3 separate regions of the Homo sapiens genome follow, and regions 1 and 3 are each linked to region 2. The links come from fine-mapping of genetic effects on gene expression. A gene starts in region 2. Each other region holds a variant in brackets. All regions are shown on one strand. Distances are between the middles of the regions. Region 1 overlaps WDR3 (WD repeat domain 3). Region 2 holds the start of GDAP2 (ganglioside induced differentiation associated protein 2). Region 3 overlaps GDAP2 (ganglioside induced differentiation associated protein 2).

Evidence for each region. PIP is the estimated chance that this variant, and not a neighbour inherited with it, causes the effect. A credible set is the group of variants that fine-mapping cannot tell apart.
Region 1: its variant is the best candidate, but not a certain one, in a credible set for the expression of GDAP2 in whole blood (INTERVAL, PIP 0.63).
Region 3: its variant is the best candidate, but not a certain one, in a credible set for the expression of GDAP2 in whole blood (INTERVAL, PIP 0.62).

What each region holds. Positions count from the first base shown.
Region 1 is chr1:117,950,469-117,960,911 of GRCh38, reverse strand. WDR3 (WD repeat domain 3) reads right to left here. Exons shown (of 27, transcript NM_006784.3): 16 at 10,022-10,078; 17 at 8,836-8,936; 18 at 8,504-8,615; 19 at 8,250-8,384; 20 at 7,916-7,966; 21 at 7,371-7,436; 22 at 6,813-6,905; 23 at 6,285-6,332; 24 at 5,554-5,597; 25 at 3,716-3,844; 26 at 1,909-2,002; 27 at 1-1,620. The coding sequence ends at 1,465. It overlaps SPAG17 (sperm associated antigen 17), which reads left to right. Exons shown (of 49, transcript NM_206996.4): 49 at 6,863-7,322. Among named protein-coding and RNA genes, the nearest start is that of WDR3, 26 kb to the right of the region's middle. The variant T/C (reference allele first, on the strand shown) is at 6,492.
Region 2 is chr1:117,924,592-117,935,034 of GRCh38, reverse strand. It overlaps GDAP2 (ganglioside induced differentiation associated protein 2), which reads left to right and starts at 5,414. Exons shown (of 14, transcript NM_017686.4): 1 at 5,414-5,587. It overlaps WDR3 (WD repeat domain 3), which reads right to left and starts at 5,296. Exons shown (of 27, transcript NM_006784.3): 1 at 5,253-5,296; 2 at 1,545-1,747; 3 at 353-562. The coding sequence starts at 1,715. RefSeq lists enhancers at 5,144-5,313, 5,195-5,489.
Region 3 is chr1:117,873,818-117,884,260 of GRCh38, reverse strand. GDAP2 (ganglioside induced differentiation associated protein 2) reads left to right here. Exons shown (of 14, transcript NM_017686.4): 11 at 634-773; 12 at 2,384-2,438; 13 at 6,109-6,252. Among named protein-coding and RNA genes, the nearest start is that of GDAP2, 51 kb to the left of the region's middle. The variant G/C (reference allele first, on the strand shown) is at 4,730.

The DNA of each region.
Region 1 (10,443 bases), 26 kb before region 2:
TTATATCATGAATGCACAAAATATATGTAGATACTAGACTATTTTATCATTTACTGCCATAAAATACACGCAAATCTATTATCAACATTAACACACACAAATACAGATCATACATGGTGCAATTCACAGTTTTGGGAGAAATGTAAAATAATGTAAAGATGCAGTATTAAATCATAGCTGCATAAAATGAACTGTAATACACAGTATGTTACTGAAATAATTTCACAGCCACCTCCTGTTGCTATGCAGTGAGCTCAAGTGTTGTGCGTATGCACTTAAAATGCTGTGACACTAATCACCTGTGCATGAACAACTCATCGCCCCAGTAAACTGCATATCACAGTGCTCCCAAAAAGCAGAGAAAAGTCATGACATTACAAGAAAAAGCTGATGCTTGATAAGTACCACAGATTGAGGTCTGCGGCTGTGGTTGCCTGCCAATCCAGACAGACAATTCATTTTATAAACAGATGACATACACTTATAGTATTGATAAACACAGTAAATATATTTTCTCTTCCTTATGATTTTCTAAGTAACATTTTCTTTTCTCTAGCTTACTTTAAGAATACAGTATACAATATATATAATACATCAGTCAGGCTCCCAGTCAATAACAGGCTACTAGTACTTAAGACTTTGGGGAATCAAAAGTTATATGCAGATTTTTGACTGTGCGGGGCGTAGGGGTGGGTCAGTGCCCCTACCACCTGCATTTTTCAAGTGTCAACTATATATATGTATGTGTACATACACATACACATACACACACACACACACACACACACACACACACACACACGAGTGTATTAATTCCTCAGAAGCCCAGCCAGGCATCTTAGCTTGGCTACTTTTTAATTAGAAACAACTATTTTATTCAGAAAAGTATAAACAGTTAGCAATTAGAATCTTCTTATATACAGACATAACTTGCAGAAGGTTAAGTCTGAGGACGCTGTTCTGGGTAATTTTTACAGTCCTTTTTAGCTCTAAGATCCATGACACTGCATTTTTATGGCCAAAGGGCAATCAATTATGCACCTGGTTGTCTCAATAGGCAGTAAAACCTAATATAAATAAATGACAAATCATCTGCCATAAAAAAATACGAAAAACTTTTGAAATGTTAATTTCAACTCCAATGAAACAAATACCTAATTAAAACAATTATTTATTCCCTGCTAGAATATAAAGGGAACAACAAGCTTGAGCTGCAAGGCTCAAGCTTTGAGAGCACAGAAAGATTTTTAAACTAATAATGCATTTTAAGTCCAAGAAATGGAGCCAGCCCATAATCTCATGTTGGAATTCCCTCAGGCAAAGCTGGAAACCACATCCTGATATCATCTGCAATGCGATCTTCTGTTATTTGGTATTTTTAAGATGACGCCAACTCTTCTGTGCTTAGTTTAGGAGTCCTTTAAAGGAAAAAGTTGAAAAAAAAAAAGATACCACATTTCAGTTCTAAGTCAACGTTAGAATCAACTTCTCCCTCTTTTTCCTCTTCCTCTTCTTCTCTTCCAAGTGGCTAGTAGCATCAGCAAAAAACATAACTTCACTTTTTGCCTCGCATTCCCTCTTGAGATAATCAAGACCAGCCATATTGAAGCCGATAACATCCTGGAGTGCAATACAAGAAATATTAAAAAATTTTCTCCCACTTCAATTCATTATAGCAGCGTATGAGAGTTAGGGTAACCAAAGCTTCAGGTGTTGTTACTTATCTTTCCCTCATTAAGAACTTTTCTTGTTTGTTTTTTCTATTCCTACTAATTCTAACAAAAACTATCTCAAATATGGATTTATCGGTGGTGGGTATTGCTAAAGACAAAGCACAGCATACTATACTATTTCTAAATCACACTAGGAATTTGCCTCATTATTTTATCTCTATACAAAGACACTTACCCGGACTTGGCTGACTTTTGAAATAGTTGTTTCCCTTAATTTTTCTATCACTGGCACAAGCATTTGATTGCTAGTGATCTGTCCAAAGTGAATCCTGATAGAAAAACAAAACACAGCCATGTTGCAGAGAGGTTCTAGCCCTACTTAACCCTTCTAGAAACAGTAAACAGACACAATATCAAAGCAACAACAAAATATACATTATAGAAATGTTTCGAGCAAAAAAAAAAAAAAAAGCCAAAGAAGTTTCTTTCTCTACTATTCAGTTCAATTTGATGACAACTTAAAAAATACTGTCCTAAACCTTATGACACATTCAACTCATTTGCAAAGGCTCTTCTTCCAGCCCAGCAACCTGCCAGTGGCTACAGATTTTGACAGTGGTACTTTAAGGAAAACTCAAAGACAGAATGAGCCTTCTAAGAAATGCTAACTTAACAAAGATGCATTAATACTTCTAATAAAGCCACAGCAAAAAAGAGACATTCGTGAGATTCAAACTCTGACCTAGAGTACCAAGATATCCTTGATGACCCTACCATACCTGTCAGGTAGTACCCATCCATAAGCCTCTGATACGCTATAAGTATTCACAGTGTTACTCGTAGAACCAGCAACCCTAATTCAATAGCACGTATACCATAGCAGTAAAAAAAAATTGTTAGTAACATGGTTAAATATGAACTTATGTCTTTACAAGTTGCCCCAAATTATGAATATGGCAACAGAACATATTATTCTTCTTCTCTTGCTACTATCCTGGATAGAGTATAAGAAATGGAGGGTTAAGAATCATAAAACCAGGCCAATTCACCAAATACCTATTTGGTCAGTTCACTACATATACCTGTTTAACTATTTGGCATTGGCTGACCAGTTTTTGTCTTCATAACAGTATTTGAAGGAATGTTCAATTTGTCTCCATCCCTGTTCTCTGCTGTAACCGCTTGAGAATGAGGGTGAGAGATGAGAAGAATATCAAGCCTTTGTGCATATATTCTTCTCAACTACCTATTAACAGAATCTTCATAAGTAAGAATATAGCCTAATGAACATATTTGCTTTATGTTCCTTAGTTTACCTCTATATATGCCCCTACATTTCCATTTGCACCTGTAGAGACCAAGAGAAATAAACTGACTTTCTTAAAATGTTGGTAAAGGACAAAGCAAAACCTGTTAGCTTACACTAAACACTTTAAAACAGGAATGTCCATCCTTTTGGCTCCCCTGGGCCACACTGGAAGAACCGTCTCGGGCCACACATAAAATACACTAATGATAGCTGATGAACAACAACAACAAAGAAATCACAAAAAAATCATAATGTTTTAATAAAGTTTACAAATTTGTGTTGGGCCACATTCAAAGCCATACTGGGCCACATGTGGCCTGCGGGCCACAGGCTGGACAAGGTTGGCTTAAAAGAAACAACAAATGAGGCAAACTGGCCAATCATAATTGGCTTTTGGCAAACTGACTAGAACCAGAGCTATCTTAAGATTGTAACATGGAGGCCTATGACTGAGTAAGCATTCCTGAGCAATGTATTACCATGACTTCTTACTTAAAGAGGTGGGTCATCATGATCCTTGTTTTAAAGGCAAGACTGATTGCTTGGGCTGGTAGCAAACTTCTGGGCTCAAGCAATCCACCCACCTCAGCCTCCCAAAGTGCTGGGATTACGGGTGTGAGCCACCGAGTTCGGCATACTATTTCTTAATCCCAAAGTGTTGACAGCTTCAGTTAAGGTACTACTGAAGCAGTTCTGCTGAACAGACATGGTATTCTTTGGAAAAGGATGTTACCTAAGGAGGAAGAAGAGGCACCGGCATATAAGTTCAACATCAGAGCCCAGCTGAATGAATTCGTTAAAGAGTTTAAGAATGTCTGGGACATAAGAGAAAGGCAGCACAAGTAGAGATTCTTCCAGCTCACTGAAAAAGAAAAAATAAATATAAAAATGCCACATTTGTTAACGTTGTTAACATGGTCAATTTTTAAATCCTTCCCTTTATTATTTTTTCTACTGATTTTATACTTGGATACATCTTGCCTAGAGTTAAATATTCATCTGTAAGCTAGATGACTCTCTTTGTTTTTTGTATTTAATATCTTAATCTATTTGGAATGCATTTTGGTCAATGGCATGATGGGAAAATCTAACTTTTTTTCCTTCCAGATAAACAATATCTCCAAAGCCTTTTGTTGAATATTCCATCTTCATATGATATTCTTTTACCATATATTGAGTCCATTAGAGTCTATTATGATGACTGATCCTGACATGATGATTGATCCTGACACCAATGCTACACTATTTTAATTTTGCTAATTTTGTAGCCTTTTAATCTGGGAAAATAGTTCCCTCTAGAACTAGCTCAAGTATTATTATTTCATCAATTCCAATTTAAAATCTTAAGAGGATATCAAATGGGATTACAAACCTATTAATTAGGAAAAGTTAAATCTTTAAAACACAGAATCTTCCTATCTTGAAATGTATTGTAACCTCCACATTAATCAATTTTCTTTTACATTCCTGTAGTGAAGTTTCATCTTTATCCTAAGACAAGTGTTGTTTCTTGTAAGGAATATATATGTAGATATTGTGGTTCATTATGAAAATGATAGCCTTCAGTAGTTCAAACTCATAAATAAAATCAAAAGGAAAATCACAAATAATATAACAATTATTGCAAAAATGTATGACAAAGAAAATAAAGTATGGTGCCCAGGCTGGTCTCAAACTTTTGGTCTCAAGTGTCCCAAAATGTTGGGATTACAGACATGAGCCACTGTGCCCAGCAAGAATTCTTTAAAAACCAGTAAAATAATACTTAAGAGCAAAAAGAGGTAACTAAAAATTCACAGGACAAAATACAAATGGTCAACAAATATGCTGAAATGTTAACTTCATTAATAGTCAAAAGAAATGAAAATAATAAAATATTACCTTTTGGCTCACACACTGGCAACAAATTTTTTAAAGCCTGCTAAAAATCAGTATAATCACCCTGGAAAGTAATTTGGCAATATAAAACTTTAAAAGCTTATGCCTACTGGTCAGTTATTAGGCTGCTAGGACTCTTAAGAAAAATAATCAATAATGATGACAAAGATATATGTGTAAACATATTCAGTGAAGCCACTGATAATAGCCAAAAAGGAGAAACAAATGCAATATCGAGTAATTATTCATACAATGGAATAATTCTGAATCCAATGATTTTTTTTTTTTGAAGAATATGAACAACAAACAAATGTTCAGGAAATATGTGAAAAAGAACAGAATATAAAACTTTATATAATATTCCAATTGTGTATGTACATAGAAAAGAAGCCAAAATATAAAACAAATTAACAATTGGTGCTTCTAATTGAATTATATATTATTTCATCGCCTACAACATAAATCACTCCCCTTTATTTGTCCTTAAAAGCATCTCTCTTCATACTTTAGAAGGAACTTCCTAGTTCTAGCACTTCAAAAAGAACATTATAAATTATTTTCCATCAAAACTTTGATATAGTTAAACCTATAAGATAACCATCAATTATAATTTCTATTTATTTCCCGTTCAGATAAGCACTTCATAAATGTTTGCTGACAGATTACAAAAATTGTGCGCAAGGACTCACTCACCTCGACTTGATCCCTTTAAAAATCTCTAATACATAAGCTGAAGGCTATAAAGGAAGGATTAATACCATTAGTGATACTCTTGGTTGGTTTCTACTAAAGTTCTCTAATTTCTATCTCCTATAAAACAGGAACCCCTCCTTCTTACTTCAGAAAAAGTATTCTAAAATGGCAAGATCTGCATGAGTTTAGAGTCAGTCAGATCTGGGTTGACAACTGAACTCTGCCCCTTACCAACTATGCTACAAGTCAAGCCAGATTCCTTATCTATAAGGTGAAGATACCCTGACTCACAAAATTACTGTGATGAGACATGCAATAAAATACTAATTAGAGATTACTAGATAAACATACATTCTCCCATCACTCTTCCCCTCTCTCTCTTCTTTATCTCATCAGACTGATTTCTGTCAACTTTCCTTCTGAAGGCTGATTCAAAAGTTAATTTAGATTAACAGAATCTTCAGAGGGCTTTGGACACTGAACATAAACAGGCACTAGAAAACAGAAGAATGCCAGTCCAGTCCAACCAAAAAGGCTGGCTTGGGAAGTCACACTAAAGTGGTCCTTTTGAAATACAAAATATCCTAGAGAATGCCAAGATTCAAAAGAGACTTTTGAAGACAAAGTATTCCCAATAATCCATCCCCAAATCATAATGCCTCTACTTCCTTTCTTGTCCTTGTAAGTAACCTTTTAATAAACAAAGGAAAACCGTTAGACATTTTACTCACTGAGATACTGCCATAAGCCATTAGGATGGGGTTGCTGGGAAGTGGAACCTATGAAGAAATTATTAAATCAAGTCATTAAAAAAACTGAGACTTAGGTAGCACTTGTTATAGACAGAGTGGTAACTGTATTTTATAATTTTGAAAAGGGAAAAAAGAGACCCTAAAAAACTGACAGAGTGTAAAAGAATTATCAAACCTGTTAGTTTC[T/C]ATAGTACTCATGAATGAGCTTGGACAATGTATTTTATCTAGAAATCTGAAATGGTTACCCTGCCTCCCAAACCAACATAGAACGTGGGTTTCTACTCAAGACAATAATCACCTCAATCTGTAATTTCCTTTCCTTCGCTTTCATTAAGACCAAGTTCCCTTCTTCCCACACTTCCTCAATTTCTTCTAATATAGTGAGTTGGAAAGATTCTATTCCATTTATTGCATATCCTGATCTTAGTTAATAAATCCCAAAACAATGGTTTTTCTCCTTGGGAATTCCCTTTATTGATACTGTAACTTACTGTACTCTCTTATTACCTCTTTCCCTGCAGCTTTACAAATGGCTTTGTGTTCCTTCATTTTTGCAGTTTCTTCTCGGTACAACTCAATAGCCTCCATAATCCTCTCAGCCTACAGAGGATGAGAAAGGAAAGAAGTCATCACAACATACTCCATCATCCCAGGACACTGAAACTGGAAGAACTGACCAGAAATTTGCCAAATGAAATAGCTTCAATCTGTTTAATAAAGACGTGCGAATAGAGTGCCAAAAAGCATTTAAAGACATTTTTGGTTTTCTTATTTTTTAATGTACAGGGAAGAGACTGAGTGTCATGGACTCAGGTGGGATGATATCTAGACACTCTGAATAGGGCAGGTCCCAGGAACACCTGAAAGGAGCACATATTGATCAAAGAGATTCAGGACTACTCCCATCTTTGGTTACAAGAGAAGGAAACAGGTTATAATCCCCATCTTTAAATCTCATCAACTTTTTGCCAAAAAAATGGCTTTCTGGTTGATACAGAATAAAACTTTTACTAAAAAGTTGAGATCTTATTAAAAAACGAGATACCACATTCTATATCAACTTACTGCTTTCACTGTTTCAATAGTTTTCTTTCCAGTAAAGTAACTGTCACCTTGAGTCTCTCCTGGAACCTGCCAGAAACAAAGAAATCCTTGAATAACACTGTTGACTGTTGAGTTAAAGAGCTGATAAATTAATCTTACATCCATATGAGAACAGCTATTATTATTTTATGAAAATACTAACAGTGTTATCAGCTACCAGTAACAGAACTTAGCATATGTATTATTGTAAGAACATCCTGCAAATGTTTAAAAAGAGAATATCCAAATTTTCTAATTTTTATTTTTGTGCTACAGTGAATAAAATAATTCCCTAAAGTCTCAATTGACAGAATAATTATTCAGTAGCAAATTTGGTCAATCACTTGAACCACAAAATTAGGATATACAGTTGAAGAGAAAGAATTACACAGATTCTTTATCAGCTGGTGATACCTGCAACTTCTAGCCTCAATTTTAATTCTATTAGAAATTCTGGACATTATAGTCAATTTCAATAAGATAACTATATATGGGGCATAATCTCAAGGTCCCCAAAATTTACTTACTGCTGGTTGGTCTTCTTTGGCCACACTCTCCTCATATTCTGCTTCTCTTTCCTGCCATGAGATAGATATACATTAATTTGAGAGAAAAAAACATGGTCTCTATATGAAGAGAAATGAGGAAGCGAGAAGCTGCTCCTTTGACAACATAATACCCTAATGGCATCTTTATCTCTGCCTAGCTTCTGAAATGGGTGACAATGGTCTTGAAAAGATCTCCTGAAGGTTCTTGGACTTGGCAATGCATCAGGTGTAACTGCACTAGACAGAAAACTTCAACTAGGACAGCCTGTCAGATACCTACTGGCATATTTGTAACCAAGCCTAAAGTTCTTACCATCTCCCTTTCTTCCTCAAGAATAAGAGGCTCCCTTGTTCTCTCCCAAAGTCTCAGAGATTTGTCATGGGACGATGATACAACATAGTCTCCACTGGGGCTTACAGCCAAACACCATATTTCCTGGTGATGACCCTGGAGGAGAAAAAAAAAATAAAGAATACCTCATTCATTGACCACTACTTAGTGGGTAATGTAAATATTCTTAAAAGTATTTCTTAAGTACCAAGCAAGCACAGAAGGCATGTGGTTACCTCCAGAGTCTGTATGTGTTCAAATTTGTCTGCATCCCACTGTTTAATCTTATGATCTTTTCCGGCAGTGAAGAAGAGGTGAGACTTGGGTACAAACTGTAGGTACATCACACTGAAAAGTGACAGAAATATTAAAATGTCATCAAATTCCAGGTTAGTAAAAAGAGTTTTACACACATAAATAGCTTTTGACTAGCTAGTTCTAGGGTGTCTGACTATATTTTAGAACTTGTATCACTGCCTGAGAACACTGAAAAATAGACACAGATGCTCAAGGAAAGTGATAACTTACAGGTGACTCAAAGGGAGACATTTGAAAAGACTATACATACCTGTCATCATGTGCAAAGAGAGACTTGTGGCAGTCCCCAAAGTCCAAACCCCAGATTTTCACATTCCTATCAGCGGAGCCAGTTGCTATGAGTGCTCCATCCTATGAGAAATAAAAGTAAAACACTACCTTGATTTTTGAATTCCGTATATGAATAAAAAGCTAACCAGAATATTTAACCCATTTCTTTCAAACACATTAAAATGAAGCCAAAAAACTGATTTTCATCTCTACTAAAAACACTGAATTCTTTGCTCTTACCTACAGAGGAACTTAAAAAGCTTGTTAAGTAAAAGCACGAACTCTGTGGCTTAAATACTTTCGTACTGTCACAGGGCAGTGCTGTGCCTTGACATAGGGTTATCTATTTACTTCGTTAGATAGGAAAAAGATTTTCTAATCTCTGGCATGGGATTTGGAAAGAAAGTGGGAGAAAGAAACAGAAGAGAAGCTGAGAAAGACTCTACTAGAATGTTTATGTAGCCCACATTCCCTATCAGTATTTCTCTTATCTCTCCTATTTCAATGCGTGGTCCAAATGGTTGTCAACATAAAAAAAAAAAAAAAAAGAAATACATTTAACATTGTAACTTAACTTTGTTAGTGCACTGACCACAGACAGCTATGAGGTCAACTCCTTTCACACAGAATAGACTTTTTTTTTTTTTTTGAGACGGAGTCTCACTCTGCAGAATAGACATTGTTTTTAATATACATTGCCACTCCTAATCAAAACTAGGTATTGGGAAATAAATGATTTTGGTCAAGAGACCAAAAGTCTACATAGTGTAAAATACCGTAACTATCCAAATATAAATCCGAGCTCCTCAGCAGCATTATCCTTCAGAATAAAAAGGAATGCCTTTTTAAAGTCTTTCATATTTTAGTGTACTCTACCAATTATAGTATTTTAAACAATAAAGTACTATTTGGGAGAGCTACAAGAGGGAAAGAGATAATATTTATAAGGATTGATTGAGATGATATTTGCAAAATTATTCTGAAAACATTAAAGTAATATATATAAGATACAATATATATTAATTTGAGACTGTTTTTGGAGAAAGATATATAACAGAATGATGATAAAAACAAATAATCTAAGATGAAGACATCAAGCCAGAATTAAGAAAGTATCTGCTGTAAAAAAGACAACATATTACTGAGACACTATTTAAACTACTTACATGAGAGATGTCCATGCATATAACAGGCAGTTTGTGTCCATACAGTGACAGAAAAAACTAAACATCAAAAAAACATAATTAATGTCTGTCTATAAAATATGGGTATAATTTATTACATGTAGGTCTAAAATATAACTTTAAACACATTTTTAAATTGCTTTATATCTGTATTTTCAAAGACAACCCACAAAAGACAGCTTGGCAGGAGTACCTGTGTCCACTACACAGACCCTCCATGTGCTTGCCAAGAATACTGCAGTATAGTGGAGGCAAGGAAGCCCCCAGAAGCTTACTGCCTCAGTCAGATCTCTGTATCTCCTCACTGAAAAGATTCCAGGGCATTTGTTTCACAAAAAAATTTCCCAGGCCCAACCTGGTCCTATCAACTCTCTGGGTATAGGGCTCAGTAATCTATATTTTTA
Region 2 (10,443 bases):
TACTGACTTTACAGAAGTCAATGGCAAATAATTATTTTGTCTCTTCTTTTCCAGTCTTTGTTTTCTTTCCTTATTTTACTGTTTTGCGTAGCACTTCCACAATAAGAGTTATCATGGCTCTCTTCATCTTATTCCTACACTTAAGAGGCTTTTATCAGAAAATATGACAAAATGAACAAAAGGAAACAAAATGAACCACCCAATTCACACCCATCCTCTTCACTCTATCATTATACTACTTTGTATATTGACAGCCCATTGTTTTACCTGACAATTTTTGTCAACAACTTGCTTCAGCATAAGCCTTACATTCCTTTAATAGATCAAAGCCTGGGCTGATTCAAAGGCTCACCTTGGACCCAGATGCCAGTCTGCCTCCTAGCTGATCATACTTCAAGGTAGTGATAGCTGCTTTGTGACCATTGAAGGTCACATTTCCTTCCCCACTCAGGAGACTGAAGATTCGGATCGACCCATCCTCATACCCAACAGCTAAGTGTAGCCCATCTGGGGAGGGGCATAAGCAAGTAACTTCTTGTTTAAGCCCCTGAAGGATAAGAATCTGAAATCATAAAAATTAAAAACAATGTAGAAGAGTTAAGCATGAACTCAAGGGAAAAGCATAGGAATACTCAGGCACAGTAAAATTAAGAGCACCAATAATTCCAAATTACTCTTATGAATAAAAATGAAACTCCACAATCCATTTCAAGTTTTTTAATATAGAAATTAGTATTTGTACTAGGCAATGAAACATTTAAGAAAAGGCTTAATTATTTTCTCCAAAGCCCTACGTTGTTGTAATACATATAAAAACTCCCTAGGCAATAAAATAAATTTAATCCCTTTAATCTAATTCTTAACCCTAGAACAACACTACGTGATTTTCAATAAAGGTTTATAAATTCCTTTAACTGAGACCCATTTTATAAGAAAATAATCTGTGTGGCAACAGAGTACTGCAGTGGTTTTAACCACAAAGGACTCTTGGTGGCAACAAGAATCAAAGTACTAACCTCTTGGGAATCACAAAATGAATGGACAATATCAAAATGCCTATATTTGGTTTGGCAAAAGTGGTAGGCTTAGGGAATTCAGTCACACAAAGTATCAAAGTCTACTTTAACAACACTTGGGCATTATCCATATTAGAAAAAGATTCTGCCAAAATAGACTAACCTTCCTTTTACATGCCTAATATTTTATAACCAGCTATAAGCATAAGTCGAGCTTGAAAAATAGAATTGGTAGAGAAAAAATACATCAGGAATAAATAATTACTGCAAATAATGACCTGTAAATATTCCAACAAATAGACATCTAAGAAATAAGCTCCTATTTCATTGTGGTTTTCAGAATTCAGTGGCGAAGAACACAAAGGAACTTGATGCTTGGCTAGCTAGACCTAAAGGAAAAAGATTTTTCTTCTAAGGGCACAGACACAAAAAAACTCATGATAAATAAATCAGAGCCCCCCCACTTCTACTACCTCTCCATCCTCAAATACCAATAAATCAGTATCAAACTGGTCATTTTAGGCTCACCTTCTCTCCTTTCCTTAAGTCCCAGATGAAAACGTGTTCACAAGCTGGTACTGCCACATAACGTCCTTTCTCACCACGAAGTGTCACAAAGACAATATTACCTTTTTGGCTGCCGATAACGCCAAAGACCGCACTAGCAACATAGCGTAGGTACTGCTTGGTGAGCCCCATGTTGTGATGTCTGATACCACAGGTGAAGCAATCTGTGCATATAAACAAAGAAAACTCAGCTCCTTGGGTGCCTTGGTTCTACTAGGTTAGTAAACACCAACTGTTTTTTTGTTTTTGAGACAGAGTCTCACTCTGTTGCCCAGGCTGGAGTGCAGTGGTGGGATCCTGGCTCACAGCTGACTCCACCTCCTAGGTTCAAGCGATTCTCCTGCCTCAGCCTCCCGAGTAGCTGGGACTACAGGCATGTGCCACCATACCCGGCTAATTTTTTTTTTTTTTTTTTTTTTAGTAGAGATGGGGTTTCACCATATTGGCCAGGCTCGTCTCGAAAGCCTCACCTCAAGTGATCCATCCGCCACGGCCTCCCAAAGTGCTGGGATTACAGGTGTTAGCCACTGCGCCAGAACAACACCAACTGTTGATCATGTCATTAAAAGCATGTAACTTGTGACTTCTTAATCTTTATTTACTCTAAATGAATCATTGACCTAAAATACCTGGACATCATTTTTTATTCAGTGTTGACTCAATATAATCCCTCATTCCTCAAGTTCCAAATTAGTCACGTTGTCATGCCCACCTCATGCATATCTGACATTATAGGCTCAATGCAGCTAAACTGATTTACTTCTGCCCATTAAACCAGCATCAAAGCTTTTACACAGAGATTGGCAGTCTGAGACTGAACATATTTTTCAATGAATATCTATTGAAAACCTACCAATTAGACAGGCACCATTCTAGACACTGGAAATACACTATTAACAAGGCAAAATCCCTAACCTCATGGTACTTACCTTCTTGTACAGTGGTTCTCTAACTCTAGTATACATCCAAATCACCTGGAGGGCTTATGAAAACATTGCTAGAAAACACCATCTCATCTCTTCTCCCAGCACCTGTTTCTGATTTCATAAGTCTGAGGTAGGGCCTAGAATTTTTCATTTCTAACAAGTTTCCAAGTGATGCTGCTATTGCAGTTCTTGGACCACACTTTGAGAACTACTAGTACATGAAAGTCTGTCCTTCATTTCAAAATCAGAGCAGCCACTTACCCTTGGCATAGAAAATGGTTGAGCAACTTGGCACACTATTTTTGGAAAGATGCCATAATTTCTGCACTTTTATTAAATTCACTGAAAATCCATAATCCACTGGTTATTTATAAAAGGGACAAGAGGTGAATGAAGGAGATAACAAATCAGTCCCATCTGTTCTTTACATGGAAGAGTAAAAAGTATCCCCAAAAAACACCCATGCAACTTAAAACACACAAAAATAAAGAAGTTACAGTCTTTTATGAGGAGCTGTTTCTTTTTGCTATTGTTTTTTGTTTCTTTGGTTGGTTGGCTTAACTCTACAGGGTCTTTCTAATTATCAAATGCTGTTTTAGTCTAACACAAAAAAAATTCAATCTCAACTCTCTGATAATATTTTCTGGTAATAATCACTTACTGGCCTCATTGCTTCTCTCACAGGAACCAACATAAAGCCAATTTAAAATCAAGGAAAGATAATATTAACATGGTGATAATGCTCTTAGCCTAGGCCATTTGATTAATTCTTTCCCAATTCCTCTTATTCCTCCAGACTCTGTAGTTGTTCCTTATGTTTGTCTGTCTTTGGCCATCTACCACCTCCTTCTACAGTGTTTTCCTTGGAGAATTCATATAGCATGCCTAGGTCCAGGGACTCCCATCTGTCTATTTCCAGTCCTTTCCACCTACATGAATACTAATTATAGAGTTTCCAATATTTACTGAACATCTCCACTTGAATACCTTATAGTTTCACATTTAACATGTCTATAACCAAGCCTACCTTACTTCTGGTACCCCTCTCTTTTCTTCTGACACTAAGACACAATTTTCCCAGCTCTTCAGGCTCAAAACCATTTAATAACCTTTGAATTATTAATAAAAAAATATTATTATAGCAGCCAAGATTTAGAGAGTGCTTACGCTATAGTAACTGATAACATTATGCAATTGTTTAATTACATACAGCAATTAATGAAACCGAGCTAACATATGCAAAGCACTTAGAAAAGCCTCTAGCACATTGTAAATATGAGCATAAAAAAATTATCCATAAGGACCTGGTATGGTGGCTCATGCCTGTAATGCCAGCACTTTGGGAGGCCAAGGCCTAGGAGTCAAGAGTTTCAGACCAACATAGGCAACACAGCAAGAACCTATCTCTACAAAACATTTTTTAAAAAATTAACCAGGCATGGTGACGCACTCGGGGAGGCTGAGGCAGAAAGATCACTTGAGTCCAGAAGTTCGAGGTTGCAGTGAGCTATGATCACGCCACTGCACTCCAGCCTGGGTGACAGTGAGACTCTGTCTCTAAAAATAAATAAACAAATTCTCCACAATAACACCACAAGGGAAGTCACTCTTCCTATCTCTATTTTACAGACAAGGAACTCAGACCCAGAGATGGCAAATTGCTAACTCAAAGTCATTTAGCAGCTAATTGCCAAAGCCAGATCCCAATCCAGCCAGTCTAACTCCAAAATTTCTGCTTTTAACCACTATGCTAAACTGCTTCTCTTTGCCTCTTTCTCTTTAGTCAATTCCACCTGACTGTTACTCTGAAACAGGATCCCTTTCTCTCCAGCACTTTCAGTTCCAGCTCTTTATCACTGGATTACTGCACTGATTTTCCACCTAGCACCTCCGCCTCCATGTTTTTCACTCTTTTCATTTAAACGTCATAATACTACCGACTAATCTTTTCAAATGAGCTTTCCCTATCCTAAAGCCTTGAAAAGGCTAAATCGTTTGCCAGTTTCCAAAAACTCATCCTATCTAACCCCCGTATTTCTCGAATAAACCTTCCTGTCAGGCTGGCTAGTTTCCTTCCTCGTCCCGCGACCTTGTATTCTTCATATTATTCGTTTTACTTAGAATAACATCCATGTTCTCCTCTACTTCTTTTAACTAATATTATCTTCTGAGGCCCACTTCCTTTCGAGTAAGCCCAATTCTAGCAGCCTTTTTTCATCGCCTCGATATTTAAACTACCTCCCATACAACTTGCACTGTTCACTTTGTTCCACGTGCACAGCTTTCGCCTCCTTTCTGACAGTTCACGACCAAACCTTCTTCCGAGACCCCATGATCTCCGCTTCCTAACCTACAGCCCCCAAAACGATGTTTCCAAGATGCACTGAAGGCCTGGACCGTGGCAACAGACCTGCCACACATTCCTAAACGAGTCTTCGGTCAGGGGAGGGTGACGGAGGGTTCCACACACCGAACACACGGTCATATCATCCTCAGGCCAGCCCGTGCACACGCACGGTCAGGCAGCTCTGCTCAGCACCCGCAACCGCGCCGAGTAGCTGAGGGGCTTCCAAGTACTGCTGTGGGGACGCCCGTAGTTACCTGAGTTCCCCCAGCCCTAGCAACCGGCCTTTAACACGCCCGTCTCGGCTGCTGCTGACATCACGAACGCCTCAGCCAGAATCTGCAAAATCGGAGCCGCAGATAATGCTCTCCGCCCCAACCACGCACCTCCAGGACTCACCTCAGCCTCCACGAGGCTCCCAGCCGATTGGACCCGCCCACAAGACCTGCCCCTTCCGGGTCCGTTCCGGAAGCCTCTTCCGCCAGAGGTTCCCTTTGCCTTCTAGGAGGAAATGACGGAGAAAGCCGGGCGCTGATTGGTGAGCTCTGGCCAGGAGCGGAAGCCGGTGTTTCGCAGCCCAGAGCATTTGCAGCTGGTCACTCCAGTCTCCTGGGACTTTGACTCGCCGTACTCGGCGCGCTCCTGCTGAGGGTCGCCGGAGATGTCGCTCGGCCGCCTTCTACCAGGAGCCTGATCCGTGCCGCCCGCCGCCCGGATGGGACCACCAGAGTGCTGTGAGAGGAGGGACTGAGGCCGGGAGGGAAGGCGGGGCGGAGAGGGCCGGGGGCGCGGTCCGAGGCGCTCGGGACTCGGCCCTGGTCAGGATTGCAGGCTGAGGGTTAGTTCTGTCACTTCTCTTGAAGAACGAGCCTGGCGCCACTTCCTCGCATGTTGGTTAGGTTCTTTCCCGAGGCGTTGTCGGGGACGCCGTCTCTACGAGAAGTGAAAGGGTGGGCAGTCGGCGGGCACTAGGAACAGTGGTGCTGTAGCCAAGGAGGCGGGCGCCCTAGGGTGCAGGTGAAATGGGGCAGGCGGGAGCTCTTGCTGGTTGTAGTCCCAAAGACAAGTCCGTGTTGCCGTTCCTGTGGACTGGACATTCTACGGAACCGAGAGCACCTCGGGTGAGGGGTGGGTAGACGCTGAGCCCAGGATGGTGCGTTGTCTAGGTTCCCGCAATCCCTGGAGTGACACTGGCCTGGCTTTGTGTTTCCGCTCTCTGGCCGCTTGAGGGGGAAGTGACCAAGGCTGACTCCTCCTTGTTTGCTCACTGAGACTTAAGTGCTCTTTCACCAAGTGGGAATTAGCTTTTCTCTCTTGCATTTCTGCTACTTTTATTCTTGAGCTGCATAGAAGTGTTTAGAAATGAGTTCTGATGTCTAGAGCTGTGCAAAATTAAAGCTAACATAGCTGTACAAAAGAAGATCCTGCCGGCGCTTCTTGAACAAGGTATCTGCAGCCAGCCTAGAAATTAGACTTTTGTCTACATTATCTGATTTTCTTTAGAGTTTCCTGAGCTTAATGCATGTTCAGCTAATCTTCCATATTCAAGAAAATTGCAATAGCAAAGAATGCGTATGATGAGACTGTGGACAGCTGTAGCAGCATAGGAGTTTTGAAACAAGATTGCTGTGTATTGGATAAATGAGAAGGGAAGAAATTGTGGCCACAAACTATTATTTTAATAAGCTTGGTGGGAAAGGGAGCATTTGAGTGGGTATGTATGGTTAATATCCCTGACAGGTGCTGTGCATTATATTATTATGGGGAGAAGTGTGTGCTTCAATGGAAAACTACATAGTTTAGATTCTATCTTAACACCCCTTGGAATAACTAATTCTAAAAAAGCTATTTTTCAGTTACGTAAACTAGGTAAGTGACATCAATGCTAAATAATTATTGTCAAGACATGCGAATTCTCTCAGAGATTCAGTGGAAGTTTTGCCTCCTTTTGCACATTTATTTCAATATTCCTGCTCTAAGGTGTCTAATTCTGGGATTTTCTTTATCTTCTCTGCCTGGTTCCATTTTGAGTTAAATAAAATCTTGAACACGGGTTTGGTTTTATATTTGAATGAGTCATGATTTTACCTTTTCTTAAAAAACTATCTTAATATTATTAAATATTATGGGATGGGACAACCACAGATGGAAAAAAATGATTTTAATAAGAGTTGGTATCAGAGCAACTGTGAGTGGTAAGGTAATGCATCTTACAAAATTCCTTATACAATGTTTCAAGGATGTAACTCTACTTCCTTATTTAAGTTTCAAAATGCCTAATATATCAATATTTACAATTAAAACATAGTGCAGTTCATTTAATATGAAGGGGTACTACTAATTTACTGTTAGGATATGTTCTTTGGGTGCTTTTGAATTATGATGTTAAATTTGACCCAAGCCATTGACAAGCTTAGGAATGTTCTTGTTATACTGTATTTATTGTTGACATATTTGACTACTTCAGTTAGTCTTCCAATCTGAAAATCTTTTTTAAAAAATGTCTTTCTGATGGCATAAAATGATTCTTAAGTATGGTGTTGGATGGTGGCATAAAATGATTCTTAAGTATGGTATGCACACATATCCTCATGTACTCTGAACTGTTAAATATTGAAATACAAAGTCATAAAGAATGGTAAACCCGGTAATTAATGGCGGTCAAGTGCATGCACCAGCTCTCTTTGTACTGTTGTTATCCAGGCTGGTCTGATCAATGTAAGCATTTTGAAAGACAGGTAAACAGGTTAAAAGTTACCATTTTTCTCTCTTAAATGATATCATTTTCTTTCTATCCAGAAAAAAAGTTTTTTTTGAGATGGTGATCCAAGGTATTATGCCCAATTTTGCCCAGTTTTGAACAATAAAATCTGATCTCTCTAGCCAATCCAATTATTCATATTAAGCAGTATTTAAAGGACTTCTTAAACTAAAAGATGACAGGATTTGAGGAAAAAAAAAACAAGTTACAGTGTAATGAGAGCTGTTTACACTGCACCATTTGAATTATAAAAGATACATAGTGGGTTATCTTTGTCTTTAGGTCCTCTTCACTAAAGTACTGAAGATCATATGGATATGGAAATAGATTTGATTCATTATGGAATCTTCTGTTTGTCCCATGTAGACTTTTTGATCCTTGGAAATTAATGTCTTGCTTCAAGAGCCTTTTTTTTTTTAACTAGGGCTTAGTGTTTGTTTATGAACTTATTAAAAGTACAGAGCTGATCAACTGATTTTCAGTGGACAGTCTTGCTCTCCTTTAATGTTAGCAAAAATTCTGGCTGTGGCTATAGATTACTGGGTGTAGGAGCCTTCTCCTCCTCCCTTTGTCACTTAAGCAATCTGTTTGCATTCTATCACTGAGATTCTAATTCAAATTTATTTACAAATCTACTTGTATGAGCTCATATACAAATATTCTGGGGAGTGAAAGGATCTGTATCTTTCATGTGATTCTCAAAGGGGCCTGTGACCTTGAGAATGTTAAAAACCACTGTTCTCTCAGGGATCAGGTTTTTCTGCCTAGCTTGGGTTTGTGGCTCCATTTACTGTATGTATTACTAAGGTGTATATGTGTTTAGGGGAAGGAGAGATTCAAACCTCTTTTTGGTGAGAAACATCAATTCTGTTTAGAGATGGAGTTGAAAAAGAATTCAACCTCTGTTAAATACTGTGACACTTCATAAAATGCCATTAAATTTTGTCCTACAATAAGAGCTATGAGCATTACTTTTACTTATTTAACATCCAATATCTTGTGGGTCACAATTACTTAAAAGCTAGGAAAAGGATCCAACAAACTCTACTGACCAGGTATGATCAGGGATATAGGAGAACCACCAGGGTATAATGTCAAAGAAGATAATAGAGTTTTGAGGAGGAAATGATCAGTAATAAATGTGGATAAAATTGGATTAATTCTTGGATTTGACATTTGGGAAGTTATTGTTGAATAGAGTAGTTTTCGTATAGCTGTAGAGCGGAAGCAAAACTGCAGTAGGTTGGGCAAATGTACGAAGAGGAAGTAGAGCTACAAAACAAATTACTCTTAAAAAGTCAAGTGGTAAAAAGGAGTTTAGTATTCTGAAGAAGAAATGAAGTAGAAGAAATAAAGGAGGAAAACCTTTTTGAGAACAGGAGGATTGAGAGGAAGGAAAAAGCCAAGATGTAATTGTAAAAGGAGAATTTATGTTGTAACACTCTCTTAAGAGGAGAAATGGTCAAATGAAGGAAATTGATTAAATTAAAGTGATTTGGTGGGCTTAAACGTGTGGAATATACCCTCAAATCGTCACTTGGAAGTTGGAAACAGTGAATGATTTTGAGTTGGAGGGAAGTTAAGGTAATTGTTCTCCTATGCAGTTTTGACACCAGTTATCTCATTGAATGCTCACAATAATCTTAGGAGAATTACCCTTATTTTAGAAATTAAAAAACTGGTTCAGAGTCAAAGATAACAAAACTATTAGATGATGGTCCTGGATCCAAACTCAGACCCTATGATAACAGAGTCCAAATTCTCACATCGAACCATACTGTCTCTGCCTCACTGTGTAATTGTGTGTGGAAATATTTACCTTAAAATACTAAAGAAACTGGATTCAAAATTGTACCAGTATGATTTTACCTATCACAGAAAAAGGTAGTAACTACATCAAAAGTTGAGGAATTTTTTCCTCCCCCTTAATTTTGGTTTCTTTTCCTTCTTTTTGTTTTGTTTCTTTTTTGAGATAGGGTTTTGCTCTGTCACCGTGCTGGAGTGCAGTGGTGTGATCTCAGCTCACTGCAATCTCTGCCTCCTGGGCTCAAGCAATCCTCCTACCTCAGCCACCTGAGTAGCTGGGACTACAGATGCATGCCACCACACCTGGCTAGTTTTTTGTATTCTTGTAGAAATGGGGTCTCACTATGTTGCCCAAGCTGGTCTTGAACTCCTGGGCTCAAGTGATCTCCCCGCCTCAGCCTCCCAAACTGCTGGGATTACAGGTGTGAGCCACTGCGTCCAACCGATTTGGTATTTTTCAAATGTTCTGTAAGCATGTATTACTTAGAGTCAGAAAGAAAAGTTATCTTAAAAAAGCAATTTTGTCCTGAAAGTTGGCATTCAAGTTTACAAACTGAAAACTGTGTTTGTGTTTAATGGATTTGTTTTTAGATTATAGCTAAGAGCTTTTTTATGACAATGACTCATTGTCATAAAAAATCTGCAGGTAATTTTTTGAAATTATGAACTTTTGTCAAGCGTCATTCCATTGAGCATGAGGCAATTTAACCATGATAGAAGAGTATATAGTCTTCATTTGTCCTCTGTTCAGCTTGTCTATTTCAAGTCTGAATACTTATGAACAGATCAACAAAACTTGTGGAAAGACCAATTTGATGGACTAAACACCAACTTTTAGGTAAAATTAATTTCTTTATTTCAAAGTAATTTCAAAGGTGTATTTAGTGTCAAATAAGAATAGTCTTCTCATACAAATTTATCATTGTTTAACCTACAAGGCCTTTCTGAAATTGTTATATAAATGATCACATTTCCTGTTCCGCAGTGTTGATTTAGGAATTAGCATATTTCACTAGATCCATG
Region 3 (10,443 bases), 51 kb after region 2:
GAATCTTTCAGAGCTCTAGAAATGCTTCCCAACCTATTGCCATCTACTGATTAAACCTGCTGTCAATGTCCTCCTTCAGATCAGCACTAAAGATCTAAAAAAATTAGCTCTCAACGTGAATCATGTGAGGCACCACTCATTACATCTTTTTATAGTAATTCTTGGTTATGTGCAGGCCATGAGTCTATTTCTGAGTAGAGACTGCAAAGACTTTGATTGAATTCAAGCGGAAACTTCAAAAATGATTAAAAGTATAGAAATTCTACTTCTAATGATTTCGATATCATTGTCCTGGAGAGAGAAAACCTGGTAGTTGATCCAAGAACTTTTTCCAGTATATGAAGAATTGTTTTAGAGGATAGAGACTGATTGTTCTCCTCTATCACTTAGAATAAGACAGAAAGGAATTGTACTGTAGCACTTATGAGAATTATTAAACACTGGGATGATTCACTTTCCTGGAGCTCTTTTTAAAGAGAATGGATATTCATCACTCTGAGTTATCCATTTATGATGACTAGGGCATAGAGTAGGTTAATTTTCTATTTTGTTTTGTTTTGTTTTTTCTTGGTCTCTGTGAAATAGACTACTGTTCAAAATGATCTTCACCTTTATTCCCCTTTTATCTTTTAGGCTCTCTTATATTTCATTCATGTAATGGATCACATTGCTGTGAAGGAGTATGTATTAGTGTATTTTCACACCCTGACCAGCGAATACAATCACCTGGACTCCGACTTCCTGAAGAAACTCTACGATGTTGTTGATGTCAAGTTAGTTATTTTTGCAAATTATGAAGGGGAAATAGTTTCTTTCTTTTCTAATATTAAGCAGTGGCAAACATTGCTTTGTATTCTGTGAAAGGATATTTCATGTAACAAAGACTTTTATCATACCTAGATTAGATACTTCAATCATAGGAGACCCTCCGTAACTGAAACTTATTTTGCATTAAAGTAAATTCATATGTAAACTTTTTACATTACCAATCTTTGTGGATAAAATAACAAAAATACTACCTTCTATTTATATGATGTATTATACTTATCAAAATACATTTATAAACATTATTTACTTTGATCCTTTAACCCAGGAGTTGGTTAGGAGAGATATTATCTGTGTTTGAAAGATGGAAGATATTGACATTCTGCAAGGTGAAGTATGTGCCCAAAGTCTCACAACAGTAAATGCAGAATTTGGACTTGAACCCAGGTTACTGACTTGGAGCTAGAAAATTATTTTCATTAAAGCATATTTCCCTTGAAATGATAATGGAAATTTTAACCAGAAAATACATGATACCCCACTATAGCAAAGATGAAATGTAGTGTTTTACATTTTTTCTTATTTTTTTTTCTGAATAAAAAGTGGCACTCAACCCTCCTGTTAGCTGTTCTGTTATTTGTAGCATCACAATGTCTGTGTGGATTGCATTGAAAAGCCCATTTTACAGTTAGGGTACAAAGAAGGCAAGTTACCATAAATTTCCAGCTATCCTACTTCTCCCATTAAATCTCATCTTATTTAGGAATATTAAAGCTTTCATTAGCCAATAGACACCTTTTTAGCTTACTCTGAATGTGGGTTGTATATATGTAGTTCTGCTTCTACCACTAACCAGTTCTTAAACGTGGAACAGGCCTCAACTGTGAAATAGTTTGTACTATTTCTCTGACGTCCTTTCCAATTAACTTCACGTGACCCAATGTTGATTACTGAACTGTTGAAAAAATCTCAGGCACACGTAGAGAGGCCAGATGGAATAGTGGATAGGAGAATGAATCTGGAGTGGTATTGCCTGGGTTCAGTTCCTGGCTCTGCCACTTGATGACTGGGTGACTTTGGGAGGGCAAAAATAGCTGCAATAATAGTACTGAGCTCATAGAATTGTTTTGAGAATTTAAGTAGAAGGCCTCTACAATTTCTGGGGCACAGCAAATTCTGTTATAATATTGTTATTATAACAGATTGTTACAACAATCTGTTGTTGTAATATGACCATTGAAACTTTTAGTTTAAAATTTTGCTATAATTTTAAGTGGTTTAGCTGCTGTTTAACTCTGATCCCAGAGATTCTAGCATCATATTAAAAAATGACACACCATAAATTTGTTTCTTAAATACAAATTTACTTAACTTTGTCCTACCTATAGCAGCTGACAGAAGCACTTAATATCTCCTATAAAAGAGATACTTTAAAAAATGGAATGTTCTCTGAATTGTTTTTGGCATTCACCTAAAATTCAATCTGTAAATTATAGCTGTCTTTATTTTTCTCTGAATATATTTATATACTCAGGCAAATAGTTAATAGTCTATAATAGTAATTGGTTTTAGGCATGAACTTATACTGATTTTTTTTGTCATTTTATTTTTGGATCAGGTACAAGAGGAATTTGAAGGCTGTTTATTTTGTACATCCCACATTTCGTTCAAAGGTACAGTATTTTTCTCTTTGGTTAAATCTAGAATTTATGTGCACTGCATGCCCAGAGTATTAAGATAATAGCTCAGCAACTTAATTGTTGCTGTCACCATTGTGACTGCTAATTTCCTGGTTTCTAAGTGATCTTGAGTTGTGGTCCTGATGTTTTGGTTGTATGTGACTCCAGCGCCTTTGTGGGCAACCCTTATAAGCCGTTAGCCCATCAGTCCCTGCCTGTTTTTGTGCTCTTTGTTCATCTGGGCCTCATTTATGCTGTTGTTACAGAATACACTTCCCTCCTCTGCCCATGGCTACCTCCTGTTTGACCTTCAGGTCTCAGCTGTACTTTCTGTAGAAATCCTTCCCTGACCAATCCTGCAGCTAGTAGCTGTTCTAGCATTGTAACCCCTTAAGATTCTGTAGTCTTATATCATTGTTATGTTTTTATTTTAATTGCATGTTTAATTTTCTTCCTTATACATGAGCCAGCAAGATCCATGAGGGCTAGAATATAGCAGTCTTGCTCACAATTATATTCCCACTACCTAAGCCTACATCTTGACTTCATCAAGATATCTAGTCTCTTGGTCTTTTTACTTTCTGAAAATATCATCTTGCCCTTATTTTCTTCTCTATCAAGCTAAAAACTGACATTTCATCACTTCATCCACTCTTGTCAATGCCTAAATTAACCTATGACCTGTTACCCTTTCATCACACCTGCCCATCAAAACCTAAACTTGAAATAATCCATTGTACTGCTTTCTTCACTCAAAGAAACCGTCAGTAAGGAGCTCTTTATCTTTACCTTCCCACTCCAAACCTACTTGCTAGCTGTTCTTATCATTGCCTCCTTTTTCTCTGTCACAAAAATGTGTTCCATCTTAATGAACACATTTCATTAATGTCCTTCTTAATGAAGGACAGTCCCTTTCCCTGTGCTGTGAATCCCATAGTAATGACATTAGCTTAAGTTTTCTGAGCACTTGCTATCTGCCAGTTCCTCCCATGAATTATCTTGCTTAAGCTTTGCAGTATACCTGTGAAATAGGTGGCAGTAGTTGTCCCACCATACAGGTAAGGGAATTGATGCTTAGAGAGATTAAGGAACCAAGATAACCAACAGTTAGTAGCAAAGGCTGGATTTGAATCTAGGCATTTTAATCCCAGACTGTAAACTACAGAGTGTATTTCCATTTCCTTAAAGAAGCTCTCTTCAACAGTTAGTGTCTTTCTCCTCTCCCGCTTTGCTGGATCCAAATTATCTACCAACTTTTAAAAATGCTAAGATCTATTTTTCTCTCCTCCACTTTACGACCAAAATTGTTTAGTATAATCTTTGTTCTATGCTCACCATCTCCATTTCTCATGTACCTTTTAAATTACTCCAGTGTGGTTATCCTGCTTTGCCAGCTGAAGCTTTTCACACCAAAATCATCCATAATTTCTGGGTCACTAAATCTAATAGACACTTTTCTCTCTCTCTGTTACCTGCATTCCCTGCAGCCTTAAACACAGTTGATCACTTCTCCTTGACACAGTTTGTCTTGGCTTCTTTGAAACTTACCTTGCCTGGTTTCTCTCCTACTTCTAGCTGCTGCTTCTCAGTCTCATTTGTCAGCCTCTCTCTCTCTCTTCTCATCTCTTTTTAGAGACAGGGTCTCAGTCTGTCACCCACACTGGAGTGCAGTGGTGTGATTATAGCTCTCTGTGACCTAGAACTCCTGGCCTCAAGGGGTCCTCCCACCTTGGCCTCCAGAATAGCTAGGACTGCAGACGTGCACCATCATGTCTGGCTAATTTTTTTTATTTTGTATTTTTATAGAGATGGGGTCTTGCCCTGTTGCCAAGGCTGGTCTCAAACTTTTGGCCTCAAGTAATCCTCCCATTTTGGCCTCCCAAAGTGCTGGGATTACTGGCATGAGCCACTGCACCTGGCTTCCTGCTTGCATCCTTTGAGTGTTAGTGTTCCCGTGTTTCTCCACCCTCATCTTTAATTCTATACCTTTTTTATTCCCATTTCTTCAGTGACCCTCCAAAATATATGCAATCTTCAAACATATATCTGGGGAGGCAATAAAGCCTAATGTTTAGAACCATGGTTTCAAGATTCAGATTACCTGGGTTCTAATCCCAGCTCTACCAGTTATCAATTTATCATCTCAGGCAAGTAGTATAATTTGTTTGCTTTTATTTTATCCCCTATAAAATGGAAATAATAGTACCTATCTTTTAGGGTTATTGAAAGATGAAATGAGTTAATACATGTAAAATACTTAAAACATTACCTGACGTATAATAAGT[G/C]CTCAGTAAATGTACACTATCATCATCATTGTCATTATCATCATCATCATCATCATCATTATCATTCTTAGGCTTTAGACCTTGGTATTGAACTACTGGTTAGATATCTCTACTTAGGCATCTTATAGGACCCTGAAGTTCAACATTTTTAAACAGAACTCCTCATGTACTCCTCTTCCACCTATTCCTGAACTGCTATTTGTGTTTTCTGTGTTAGCAAATGGGACTTCTGCCTACCCAAGTGCCTAAGCCAGAAACCAGAGAGGCATTCTGGAGCACTTTCTGTACCTCATCTCCTAGCACATTGCATCAGTTCTGTGTGTTTACAATTGCTCAAATTTATGTCTGTGTCTTTATTCCCACTGCCTCTACATTAGTTCATCCCACTATCAGCTTTTACTTGAAATGACACAGCAGCCTCCTAATTAATTTTCATGTTGTCCTGCCTCCAATATTGCACTGCTCCAAGAACCTTCAGGCATGCCTTGTGAACGATTTTCTGATAATGTTATTATAAGAAGCCTGCAATATTTACTATAATGGTCCTTTTCAAAAAAGTTTGCTATTTCCTGCATACGTTACCTTCTTCTGTAAGTAAAATGGGGATAGCAACAATATCATACCTGCCTCATAGGACTATTGTATAGTATGTTGATAAACATGGACTAATTTGTGATTGCCAATTTAGATAGATAAACAGTAATTTTTAAATTCAAGCCATTACCTAGTTTATGTCAGTATTGTTTGGTATCAAGAATTTTTTATCCTTTTTTTGGGAACCAACAAATTTTGCAGACTAGCTTTTAGAGAGGGATTGCATGTTGTCAAGTGAAATGAGCAAAGATGGCACCACATCTACAAGTGATTCACTTTGATGGACTTCGAGAAAGAAATTCATGCCAAGCATCAACTGAAAATATATGAGTCCCAAATATTGGCACAAATTTTCTTTTCAGTCTCATTTGAAAAATTCACAGTGTGAGATTTGGAGATATTAACCATTTTCAGAAGACTGGAACACCAATTATTCTACCAAATAATGCAGCGGTTTTGACTACAACCCACAGTAAGAAGCATGTAGTACAGCACTAACACACTACACGCATGGGAACTTATATACATGTAATGGAAACAAAAGCTTCATGAAACAAAACTCATTCTTCTTATAGTCTCTAGTCAGTGTTATCCTCGTTTCTTCTTTTTAATGTTATTAATAATCAACTAAACTGATGATTGCAAAATTCAGATTGCGCTTTGAAAACACTAGTTATTTTAAGACTTTGAAATATAGTTTTTATCTACTATAAATTTTCCAAATTGTGTTTATGTTTCTAACTATGGCAACTAGCTTAAATTATTTTTTCTCTTCTATTAATCAGGTGTCAACATGGTTTTTTACCACCTTTTCTGTCTCAGGACTGAAGGACAAAATCCACCATGTGGACAGCCTCCACCAGCTGTTTTCTGCCATATCACCAGAACAGATTGACTTTCCTCCTTTTGTCCTTGAATATGATGCCAGGGTAAGAAGTACCAGAAGTTCTCCCTCACCTGGTATGGTATATTAACTGTTCTATAGAGCAGCACTTACGAGCACAACATCCTGTCATTACCAGATATTAATGTAAATTAGTGAGTCTTAATAAACTTGGTAATATCATTTAACATACTTTCCCTATGATAACTTTAGGAAAAGGATTTGTCCCAAGAGAGGCATTTTCTCCAGATAAACGTTTCAGTGGGAGATCTCTCTGCTGTGAGTTCAGAACCAATTTTCGTTTGTATTGTAAGTTTTCTACCATATTTAAAACAGATACCTCTGCCTAATTTTCTTAAGATTGAATGGCTTTCCATCTACACAGAGCCAGAAGAATTTATTGGTGATCACTTTTAGAATTAATTGCAAATCATGTGGCCTATCTCAGTAGTCTTTACCCTGCTAAAAGTTTCATTTATCTAAAAGGTTGTATAATGTTTTTAAGAGCATCATCTGATAATATTATTGTTGTTATTTATAGATGCGTTTATGGATCTGTTACATAAGCACTAGTCACAGGACTACTCGTGAATTTCATCAATTTATTCTATTGTGTTTATTCATGATATCACCTTAGTAATTTTTGAAAAAAAAAAAGTAACACACTTGGCCAAAAGCTCATCAAGCTGATTGTTTAACTGTTGCTGATTGCTTATCTTTATATTGTATGAACCAGGGGATAGATTTGAAAGTTATATTAAGTTTGAAATGAATTATTCTTCCCTAATTATTGTGCAGTGTTTATACAGCAAAATAAAAATTCTGCAACACAATTTCTCTCTAACATTTCTCTAACTTTAGCTATAATTTTTTTCCCCTTATGTGCAGAGTAAAGTGTATAATGTGATCTAATGGCTAATAAAATTTCATATTTGGCTGTTATACAGAGAGGATTTGTAACTGGAGCAGCTGGATCATAGATACAAAAATTGTTGAATATAGGAAAGAGAAAAGAGTACATTAGTTTGTATTTACTGCAGATTGCTGGAGTAGAAAATGATCTTAGTGTTTTTCCTTTGAACTCTACATCACTCATCTTAATGCTTAAAAAAATGGATAGCAGAAAATGTGAAAGGCACTAAGCAACATTTTTACACTCAAAATTTTGAAGACAATTCATAGCTAGTATCTGGATTTATCATTTATTTTCTGGGATAGAAATATATAAGTTGGGTGTTTGATTAGGAAACCTAAAGGACTGTATTTTAAGCCAAAGCATTTTCTATATACTTAAGGGCCTATAAAGCAGGCTTTCATTAAATATTAAGTATAGCTCCACCACACTCAAGCTTGGTTTTGTTTTTTGTTTTGTTTGGTTGTGTATTTTGGCTGTTTTATTTTTGTATAAATACAAGCATAATGTAATTAATCAAAATTAAGTAGACTAACTTATAATCTAACACTTGGCTCATTGGATCATCTCTTTGTACCTATGCTAGAGCTTTCTAAAATTGAGATGTTAGATCAAAGAGAGGCATAAAAATGGGGAAGAAACAAAAGAGGGTTTCTTAGTCCATTTCTTTGTTGCTGTAAGGGAATACCTGAGGCTAAGTATAAAGAATAGATTTATTTGGTTCATGGTTCTGCAGGCTGTATGAGAAGCAGGGCACCAGCATCTGCTTCTGGTGAGGGACTCAGGCTGCTTCCACTCACGGCAGAAGGGGAAGGGAAACCAGTATGTGCAGGGATCTCATGGTGGGAAGGGAAGCAAGAGAGAGGGAAGGGAGGTGCCAGGCTCTTTTTAACAACCAGCTTTCACAGGAACTAATAGAGCAAGGACTTACTTATTACCACAAGGACAGCACCAAGCCATTTATGAGAGATCTGCCCCACCCCATGACTCAAACACCTCACATTAGACCCCACCTCCAACACTGGGGATCAGGTTTTAACATGAGGTTTAGAGGGTCAAATATCCAAAATGTAGCATTTTGCCCCTAGCCACCCAAACCTCATGTTCTTCCCTCATGCAAAATACAATCATTCCATCCCAGCAGTCCCCAAAAGTTTTACCTTGTTCCAGCACCAACTCAGAAATCCAAAGTCTCATCTGGAGACTCAAGGCAAGTTCCTCACAGCTGTAAATCTGTAAACTCAAAATCAAATTATTTGCTTCCAAGATATAATGGTTGTACAGGCACTGGGTAAACATTCCCATTCCAAAAGGGAGGAATAAGAGGAACAGGCCAAAAGAAAGGGGTAACTGGCCCCTTATAAGTCCAAAACCTATCAGGGCAGACACTAAATCTTAAATCTCCAAAATAATCTCCTTTGGCTTTATGTTCTGCATACTGGGCACACTGGTACAAGGGGTGGGCTCCCAAGGCCTTGGGCACCCCCACCCCCATGGCTTTGCTGGTTGCCACCCACATGGCTTGCTCTCACAGGTTGAAGCTGAATGCTAGAGGTTTTTCCAGGCTGAAATTCTGGGTCTGGACGGGAGCAACCCAACCCCACAGCTCCACTAGGCAGTGCCCCAGTGAGGACTGCCTGGAGGTGCTCCACCACTGGAGCAGACTTCTATCTGGGAACCCAGGCTTTCTGATGTATCCTCTGAAATCTAGTTCCAAGCTGCCAAGCCTCCACCACTCTTGCATGCTGCATGCCTGCAGACTTAACACCACATGGAAGCCACCAAAGCTTATAGCTTGCACCCTCCAGAGCTGTTGCCTGAGCAGTACCTGGGACCCTTTGAGCCATCGCTGGAACCAGAGGGGCTGGGATGCAGAGAGCAGCATCCTGAAGTGTTAAAGCCTTGTCGCTCCCAAACCATTCTGTCTTCCTAGTCCTCTGGGTCTGTGATGCGAGGAGCTACCTCAAAGATTTATCCTTGCTAATCTCTCTAGCAAGTGGTTGCTCCACAGCACCCCTAGATTCCTCTCTTGAAAATGTTCTTTCCTTCTCTACCACATGCCTAGGCTGAGTTTCTAAAATTTTATGTTCTGTGTCCTTTTTAATTATAAATTCCAACTTTTTGTCATTTCTTTGCTCTCATATCTGGTTATAAGCTGTTAAAAGCAGCCACACCACTTCTTGAATGCTTTACTGCTTAGAAATTTCCTCCAGCAGATACCGTAGGGTACCAGTATTGTTTGGCCTTCCATAAAACCCTAGGGGATGGACACAGTGCAGCTAAGTTCTTTGCTAGGGTGTAACAAGGATGACCTTTGCTCTAATTCCTAAGTTCCCCACTTCCATCTGAGACCTTATCAGCATGGCCTTTACTGTCTGTATTTCTATCAGCATTTTGGTCACAACCACTTAACCAATCTCTAAGAAGTTTCAAACTTTCCCTAAGTCTTTCTGTTGTCTTCTGATCCTTGCAGACTCTTCTAGCCTCTGCCCATTACCCAGTTCCAAAGCTGCTTCCACATTTTCAGGTCTCTTTATAGCAACACCCCACCCCTCAGTACCAATTTTCTGCCTTCATCCATTTTTATGTGGCCATAAAGGAATACCTGAGGCTGGGTAATTTATGAAGAAAAGAGGTTTATTTGGCTCACATTTCTGCAGGCTGTACAAGAAGCATCACACCAGCATCTACTTCAGGTGAGGGACTCAGGCTGCTTCTACTCATGGTCGAAGGGTAAGGGGAGCTGGTGGGTGTAGAGATCACATGGCAAAAGAGAAAGCAAGAGAGAGAAGGAAGGGGCATGCCAGGCCCTTTTTAACAACAAGCTTTCATAGGAACAAATAGAGTGAGAACTTATTACCACAAGGACAGCACCAAGACATTTATGAGGGATCTGCCCCATGACCCAAACACCTCCGACTAGGCCCTACTTCCAGCATGGGGATCAAATTTCAACATGAAGTTTGGAAGGTCAGATATTCAAACTATAGCAGAAGATATCAGGAGATGATGTGGAAGGGTCAGGCAGAGAGCACATCGCTGGATACAGTAACTTTACATATTAGTGCTGCAGGTCTTTGGCTTTGTAGTCAGTGAAGAGTGTTCTGCAAGGGAGAATTGCCATTACATTGCTGTTTAGACAATGACTGTAGAAACAGCACAGAGAATGACTAGAGAGGGAAGGGTAAGTCCATGGGGGAAAAGATGAGGTCTATTAGTAAAGGCTGGCAGAGAAACGAGACTATATTGTTAGGGCAGTGGTAGTGATAATGGCAGGGATTTGAAGATTTTAGAGATATTTAGAAATAGACATTTTAGGAAATA